Linked DNA regions of Homo sapiens: region 1 is linked to region 2. The links come from fine-mapping of genetic effects on gene expression. A gene starts in region 2. The other region holds a variant in brackets. All regions are shown on one strand. Distances are from middle to middle. Region 1 overlaps PCBP2 (poly(rC) binding protein 2). Region 2 holds the start of PCBP2 (poly(rC) binding protein 2).

The links. PIP is the estimated chance that this variant, and not a neighbour inherited with it, causes the effect.
Region 1: its variant is fine-mapped to the expression of PCBP2 in B cells (Fairfax 2012, PIP 0.95). The same link has a PIP of 0.9 or more in NK cells, monocytes and monocytes after interferon gamma.

Annotation. Positions count from the first base shown.
Region 1 is chr12:53,477,150-53,481,506 of GRCh38, forward strand. It overlaps PCBP2 (poly(rC) binding protein 2), which reads left to right. Exons shown (of 15, transcript NM_031989.5): 15 at 2,257-4,013. The coding sequence ends at 2,293. It overlaps MAP3K12 (mitogen-activated protein kinase kinase kinase 12), which reads right to left. Exons shown (of 14, transcript NM_001193511.2): 14 at 2,520-4,131. The coding sequence ends at 4,033. Among named protein-coding and RNA genes, the nearest start is that of PCBP2-OT1, 15 kb to the left of the region's middle. The variant C/T (reference allele first, on the strand shown) is at 2,433.
Region 2 is chr12:53,450,022-53,454,410 of GRCh38, forward strand. It overlaps PCBP2 (poly(rC) binding protein 2), which reads left to right and starts at 2,081. Exons shown (of 15, transcript NM_031989.5): 1 at 2,081-2,355. RefSeq lists an enhancer at 1,813-1,912 and silencers at 2,093-2,192, 2,413-2,542, 2,563-2,812.

The sequences.
Region 1 (4,357 bases), 27 kb after region 2:
TTGATACACATTCAGAACATTTCTTTCAGAGCTCTGGTGGGGCCAGAGTGCTACCACCAATTTTTATGAACTTAAATTTTCAGGTCCTAGATCTAATGGTATCTAGCAGTTCCTTTCTTAGACCTTCAGTTCTTACTGAACCCTTTAATCCAGGGCTATTGTTTACCTTTCCTTAGATCATTGTGTTTTGAAATTGGCACGAATCTACCCCCCTTTTAAGAACTAAATATCCCCTGCCGGGCACGGTGGCTCACGCCTGTAATCCCAGCACTTTGGGAGGCCGAGGCGGGTGGATCACGAGGTCAGGAGATCAAGACCATCCTGGCTAACACAGTGAAACCCCGACTCTACTAAAAACATAAAAAAATTAGCTGGGCATGGTGGTGGGCGCCTGTAGTCCCAGCAACTCGGGAGGCTGAGGCAGGAGAATGGCGTGAACCTGGGAGGCGGAGCTTGCAGTGAGCCGAGACCGCGCCACTGTACTCCAGCCTGGGTGACAAAGCAAGACTCTGTCTCAAAAAAAAAAAAAAAAAAAAAAAAAAAAACCCTAAATATTCCCTTAATACTGAGGTGGAGAAACCATTTCTGACTAAAAGTAAATAGTTTGTAGTCGAAGGACTTTGCAGTTTTTTGGCCCTTGCTTTTCTACCCAGCTTTTGGCTTTGCATTGTTGTGGAAGGGATACAGATGGTGAATTACCAATCATGTTTTCATGACCACATATCACAAATATTTTATGCTAATCAGTTTAAAATCTTATGAAATAACTTATCTTATGAACTGAAATGAAGTCTTATACATTTGGTTCTATTCAAAATGAGGGCAAAGTCTTGCTGCCTACCTACCTACCAGTGAAGCATACTGAGTACTTAAATACTTTTCCCTGAAAGCCCTAAATTGGATTCCAGGACCTCAAATGACTATCTCTTTGAAACAGAAAGGCATTGTAGCCAGGTATGTTTAGATGGAGGATATGGCTTGACAAGATCTAGGAGCTTGTAGAGTGAGCTACAGAGTTGAAACAAATTATTTTGTCTGCTACTTTTAAGTCCTGAAAACTTTTTAAAGAACTTTTTAAGGCCGGGTGTGGTGGCTCATGCCTAATCCTAGCACTTTGGGAGGCCAAGACAAGTGGATCACCTGAGGTCAGAAGTTTGAGACCAGCCTGGCCAACATGGTGAAACTCTGTCTCTACTGAAAATACAAAAATTAGCTGGGCATGGTGACAGCTGCCTGGAATTGCAGCTACTCAGGAGGCTGAGGCAGGAGAATCGCTAGAACACGGGAGGCAGGGGTTGCAGTGAGTTGAGATTGCGCCATTGCACTCCAGCCTGGGTGAAACTCAGTCTCAAAAAAATAAATAAATAAATAAGGCCAGGCGCGGTGGCTCATGCCTGTAATCCCAGCACATTGGGAGGCAGAGGCAGGCAGATCACCTGAGGTCAGGAGTTTAAGACCTGCCTGGGAAACCTGTTGAAGCCCCGTCTCTACTAATAATAGAAAAAGTAGCTGGGAGTGGTGGTGGCTGCCAGTAATCCCAGCTATCAGGTGGAGGCTGAGGCAAGAGAATTGCTTGAGCCAGGGAGGCACAAGTTGCAGTGAGGCAAGATCACATCACTGTACTCTAGCCTGGGTGACAGAGCTAGACTCTGTCTCAATAAATAAGTAAATCTGAGTATAATTCTTGACCCATAGTTACTCTTTTTACATCTCTTTTTAACATTTTTTTTTTTACCTTTAAAACGGTATTACCTCATAATACCCTACACATTGATAGAACTCCAGGGCTTTAAAGTAAAGGCCTTGAGTTGTCTCAGCATTAAACCCTTGAGACTACTCTCAGATGACTCTTTCTTTCCTAAACTGGTATTCTGTCAGCAGTTTGGGAGGAGCCAAAGTGAGCTCAGCAATAAAGAAACATTGCTTCTGTGTATTGTGAGCACTCTTTAGAGGGGCCTGTTTCCAGAAAGTACACTCCTTGGTTAGCCCACCATGGAGGTGGAACTAAAAGAGAACATAGTTTGAGGGACATTGGATAACAAGGGCTGTTTCCCTTGGTTCTGAGGTAATAGACCTCCACATGCTTGAATTGCAAGGATTAAAGGATCATGGTACTGGTAAATTTAAGAAACCTTAAAATGTCTCCCTTGGTACTCCAGCACTGGTTATTTACTCTTCACATTTCATGAACCAGGTAGAGATGAGGTGCAGCTGAGCACTGGGGAAACTAACTGAGTTCTTGTTTCTGTGTTACAGGCTTTCCTCGGAGACGGGTGGCATGGGGAGCAGCTAGAACAATGCAGATTCATCCATAATCCCTTTCTGCTGTTCACCACCACCCATGATCCATCTGTGTAGTTTCTGAACAGTCAGCGATTCCAGGTTTTAAATAGTTTGTAAATTTTCAGTTTCTACACACTTTATCATCCACT[C/T]GTGATTTTTTAATTAAAGCGTTTTAATTCCTTTCTCTGTTCAGCTGTTGATGCTGAGATCCATATTTAGTTTTATAAGCTTCTCCCTGGTTTTTTTTTTTTGGCTCATGAATTTTTCTGTTTGTCATGGAAATGTAAGAGTGGAATATTAATACATTTCAGTTTAGTTCTGTAATGTCAGGAATTTTTCAAAAAAATTAAAAGATGGACTGGAGCTTTTTCTTTGTGAATAGAAACTGGATGCCACAGTGATTCATGTGGGTTTTATTCCTCTTGTCTTGCTGTTATTTTTGTACCTTTTATCCCTCAAAGGACCCTTCTTGGGTTTTGAATGGAAGCCTTTATTCCGGTTAAGATGTTTTCTTCTATTTTACCACTTCCATCTTTTTTTGTGGCCCTCGATCCTATTTTTCCCTGACTCCATGCTTGGTTGGCCCTTATAAAACTTGTGCCCAAAAGATTGAGGATTAGACTTTCCGAGGACTTACCTGTCCTAGGGGAGTAGGCAAGCACTTCCACTAGGGAGGGGGTGGGGGAAAGGAATGACACATGACATACATGGCATACACATTAAGCAGTTGATCATATGTCTGACTGGGTTCCAGTTTCTTGGGAATGTTGGTCCCCTTGTTCAGGCTTGCATATTTTAAACTAAAAATTTCAGTCTATTGTTTTTAGTAACTTCATTTATAGTCCTCCATAACAAGTTAGAAGGATGTATCTGCTACCATTTATTCCTATAATTTTAGAAAGTTGGGGCTTGACATTATACTCATTTAGTGAGAGTAGATGCAAAAAAGTGGAGGGGCAGGAGAACTTCTCCAGACACCTCAGATAAAGTCCGGAGCCCAAGGCTTTATCTTAACCATGTATGGTACCCCATTCATTCATCAAGAAAACCCTCAACAGCTGGGCCTGCATGGAGTGTTATATTTCAAGGTTTTTCACAGGGGTTACAGTAGGACAGTCCCCACCCCAATCAGGCACCAGGATAAAAGCAGGGACTTAAACAGCACCCCGGTTCTTCAGCCTGAGCCATCACATGCTATCAGTCTCCTAACCTCCCCCTGGGCCTTAAGACAGGGCTTGGGCAGAGAAGATAAATGGTGGGACAAAAAAATGAGTTACATTGCCACCTGAGAAACCTCAGAGGGGAGGACCCAGCCTTAGCCTCCCTCCTCCCAAGTGCAAAATGTGTAAACAGAGTAAACGGAACAGAAAAGTGCAGTCTAAGTGGTTTTCTCTCCTGCCCCTCCCACCGCCCCTCCCCCCACCCCCTATTATTTGGGGATAAAGAATATAAAGACAACCCTGGCTTTTCTATTGCCTTGTTGCTTGCTGAATATAAGGAATGGGGTGGGGCAGGAAGGGGCTTGCCCTTAGCCACAGCTCTACGGCTGTGCCTCATTCATTTCCACAGCTGCCAGTGTCCCTAGAGTTTATCAGGTGAATTGGTCAGGGGATCAGTCTCCCTCGAGCCTGACTTACGGCTGGGACAGCCCCATCTTTCTGTTGATTATGTGGCGCATATATATATATATATGTATATATATATAATTTATATAAATATTTCTCTATGTACAAGGAATACGAGTGGCTTTCATGGAGGGAGGGAAGCTGGGGGCCGCAAGGCATCAACGCTGTTGGAGTTGTCCAATTCAGTGCTGTCACAGTCTGAGTCCTCAGAATTGGGAGGGCCCTGTGAGAAAGAGTAGAAATGGAGTGAGATTCCTTGGGGTTCTTTGCTGGGGTCATTTTAATAGCCAGTGGCTTACTGATTTGTTTTTTAAGACAGAGTCTCACTCTCGCCCAGGCTGGAGTGCAGTAGCACAATCTCGGCTCACTGCAACCTCTGCCTCCCAGGTTCAAGCAATTCTTCTGCCTCAGCCTTCTGAGTAGCTGGGACTACAGGCATGCACCACCAC
Region 2 (4,389 bases):
CTCCGTCTCAAAAAAAAAAGAAAAAAAAAGAAACCCAGGATCCAAGCAAAAGCCACACATTATATTTGGTTGTTATTGCCTTAAGCATTTTTAAATTCCTGCTTTTGTTTTATTTACTAACTAAGAGATGGGTCTTGCTCTGTCACCCAGGCTGGAGTGCAGTGGTGCCATCATAACTCACTGCAGCCTTGAATTCCTCGGCTCAAGTGATCCTCTCGCCTTAGCCTCTTGAGTAGCTGGGACTACAGATGCATACTACCATGTTCAACTAATTTTTTTTTTTTTTTTTTGAGACGGTGTTTTGTTCTTGTTGCCCACGCTGGAGTGCAGTGGCGCAGTCTTGGCTTACCGTAAACTCCGCCTCCTGGGCTCAAGTGATTTTTCTGCCTCAGCCTCCCGAGTAGCTGGGATTACAGGCATGCGCCACCACGCCTGGCTAATTTTGCATTTTTAGTAGAGGTGGGGTTTCTCCATGTTGGTCAGGCTGGTCTTGAGCTCCTGACCTCAAGTAATCCGTCCGCCTCGGCCTCCCAAATTACTGGGATTACAGGTGTGAGCCACTGCACCTGGCCAATTTTTTTCTTTTTTTTTTTTCCATTGCTTTTTTGACAAGACCAGCTAGCTGTCTTGTGGAATGTTGTGGGTTTGCAAAATATCTCCTTGTGTTGTATTAAATTTCCTATAAATTGCAAATCAGATCTAATGACTTGATTAGATTAAGATTAAGCACTTTTGGCAAGAATATTTAATAGATGATGTGGTGTACTTGTTGCATTTTTCCAAGGACCACACGGTGCAAAGTTGTCCTACTATGAGTGATGCAGTTTGATCATTTATGTACTTGGGTAAGGTGGTAACTGCTAGATCTCTCCATTTGAAGTTGCTTTTAAAAAATTTGTTATTTTTGCTACTCGGGAGGCTGAGGCAGGAGAATCGCTTGAACCCAGGAGGCTGAGGTTGTGGTGGGCCGAGATTATGCCATTGGACTCCAGCCTGGGCAACAAGAGCAAAACTCCGTCTCAAAAAAAAATTTGTTATTTTTGAGACAGGCTACAGTGCAGTGGCCGTCATCATGGCTCACTGTAGCCTGGACCACTAGGGCTTAAGTGATCCATCCACCTCAGCCTCCTAAATAGCTAGGACCACAGGCATGTGCCACCACGCCAGCTAATATTTGTATTTTTAGTAGAGATGGTATCTTAAACTCCTGAGCTCAAGCGATCTGCCTGCCTCAGCCTCCCAAAGTGTTGGAATTATAGACGTGAGCCACTACCCCTGGCCCATTTGAAGTTACTTAAAAAAAAAATTACATATATATATATATATATATATATATATATATATATATATATATTTGCAAATCTGTGTGGTGATATTTGATATTTGGTGTCATGATAGTATCCCGTTCCCTAACAACCTTTCTCAAAATTTTAATGATTGATACACTTGCCTGAATCAATTATTTCATTCTGGGTTGCAAAATGGTGACTTTTCAACTCTCATTCCTTTTATTTCTTTCATTCCTTCTAGATTTATTACATGGAACTCTTTAAAAAAGAGCTTTCCCTTATCAATTACAGATGAACTATATACAGTTCTTCCTAAAAGGAAAGTTAAATGCTTAATTCTTTCCTTTTAAGAGTAAGGAGTTTATACAATGGTCACCTCTAACGTGGCAAGTTAGTTTTTTTCCTTTTCTTTTTTGAGTATCCCTGTAGATTACTATCTTCATCCTTTCTCTTTCCACCCATCCCTTTTTCCTCCTCTCCACTTCTTGATGCATGGCGACTGCTCCCTCTCCGCACTAACATCTGAACTTTCCAGCCAGTCCACTAGGGGCCACTGGTTTCCTTTCTGCCCCCACGCTCCCTCTCTATCGCAATTCGTCGCTTGCTAGCAGCCGTTGTCTCGCTGGTGCCTACGCTGTCAAAGGAGCCGCTCTAGGCTTTTGGGAGGCCGTCTGCATTGCGTGGGGAAGGCTTGGACGACGCAATCGCCTCGCCGGCCCCCGGGGTGGTTAGCGCTTCCGGGGTCGAAGGGTGCGCGGGGTTGAAAGCAGGCCGCTCCGCCCCGTCCCCCTCCCAGACCAGCAGAGGCAGCAGCCGGAGCAGCCGCAGCCTGCGCCCTCTCCCGCCCGCCCGCCCTCCGCCCGCCCGCCCGCCCTCCGCCGCCCTCCACCCGCCCCGGGGTCTCTTTCCCCCTTCCTCCTCCTCCTCCTCCACCCCCCCTTCCTCCTCCGCCCGCCCGCGGGGCCCCCCTCGCCTTCCCGCCCGCCCCTATTGTTCCGCCCCCGGCCTCCCGCCCTTCCCCTTCCCGCCCGCTCCCCTTTTCCCCTCAGTCGCCTCGCGCCTGCAGGTAAGCCTAAAAATTTCCCTTGCGCCCCCGGCTATGGCTACAATTTCCACTTTTGTCTTCTTCTTAGCCGGCTCGGGTCCTAGTCACGAGCCGCGGTCTCGCGTAGTCCCGCGTGAGCGCCTACCACCTCACTGTGCCAGGCCGGTCATTCACGCGAGGCCCTGGCTCTGGCGCGGCCTAGTAGGCCTCGCGCAAGGCCTATTCCCCCCTCCCCCCGCCTTTTCCCGGTGGCGGCTGCGCAGGAGTCAGGGAGGGCGCGCGCGCGGTAGGGGGGGCGGCGGTGGATTTGTTGGTTGTGGGGGGTTGGGGGAGGCGATGGCCGGCTTGCTGGCCGGGCGGGTGAGCGCGGCTCCCCGCGGGGGTCAGGCGCTGGCGCAGCCACACGGGGAGGCGCTATTAGTCCGGCCCCTCCCCCTGTATCGCAGCGCCCCCCCCCGACCGAACCGTTTATTTTTTCCCCCCTCTTTCTAGTCGAGGGAAGGGGGGGCTTTTTTTCTTAAGTGGAAAATGCTTGGATAACCGAGGGGAGAGGGGGCTGCGGAGTTAAAGAAAGGGTAGACGGGCTCCCAGTTGCCGAGTTAATCAGGACGTTTCTCGGGGTAACGAATTTTTAAATTACAAAATGCCTGCCGATGTAATCCCAGACCGAGCTATTTATGGAAGGGGTATTGGACAGCAGTGTTAGCAGCTGGATTGCTGGAATGGGGTACCTTTATCTTGACCTAGTCAGGAGGGAAATTCGACAAATTTCTTGGATTACTTGGTTTGGAGTTAGAAATGCATCTTTGTACTTTACCTCAAGAAATGGCTTCAAATAGGTTTCCTGTTTTGTTTTTTTTTTTTTTGCCTTTTCGAAGTTGCGTTATTGTGATATTTGTAAAGGGCTTCCTATTACATCTGCAAGAGGGTAAGGAATTAAACTACCAGGTCTTTACCACATCTTATTAAAAAAAGAAAGTCATTCTTACAGACCTAACGCTTCTTCCCCCACCAAGCACTATTTTTCCATGAGTGAAAAGTGTTGAATTCTGGGATTTTGCCAGCAATTAATTGTATTCTGAAAATGGGGAAATGATGTGCTTTGGGGATGCACTTATATAATCACTTACATTCTTGGAGTAGCCAGAGGACAGTTTGCCATATACAGAATGGTGTGACAGACACTTAAGCACCTAAGATATTTAGGGTATGGGCTTTGTGTTAGAGGAAAGTTAACACAGTGGCTGGTTTTGTGAAGGAGGAAATCTAGCTGTGGGAGGAGAGAGATGACATGTTGAGTTTTAAAAGGATGGATACTTAAAATGTCATTGGGGACATTCTACAACTTGGGAGAGGTCCTTTCTAAAGCTGTTACGATTAGGTGCTAAAGGAGGTATTGAAGGCAAAGGCATATCCAAAAAAACAAATTTTCTTTCTACACATAACTAGTTACTCTAAAGCAGAAATGTTAGGAACAATGTTAGGAATTGTTTCATAGGTGGGAAAAGGGCCATCTTGTATAGGAAAGGTGCATTTGCTGCTGTTCTTAAAAACAAAAAATTTTAGCAATGCCAGTTTTATTTTGATTGTTTTCTTTGGAAGGAAATTTAAGATTTAATAGACTTGAAATAAAAACTGGATGGTAAACACAAAAGCAAGGAAAACATCTCAAATCTGAGTAACAAGTTGGGTTGGAAGGAGGAATAGGAGAAAAAGACTCAAGTGTACTTAATGTATCGAGTCATTTTCTAAAGGGGAATATGGAACCCCAGCCTGCGTGGAAGGCATCTCAGATAATGCCTTTTCAGTGAGGGTGTTGATCTAAATCTTTTAGAAATCATTTGGTGTTAGCCATCAACGGTTGAAATTTGTAATGTGGGATACATCTCAATTTCCTTATCTACAAATTGCTACTACAAAGAAAATTTACATGTGTTCTCTCTAGTTTTCAACTTAAACTGCTCCCCAGCAGGGAAACAAAAGGTCATTTGCCCTCGCTGTAGTTGGAGATTTGCACTCATGATTTCCAGGTGTTTCTGAATTCTTTGAAGCTTT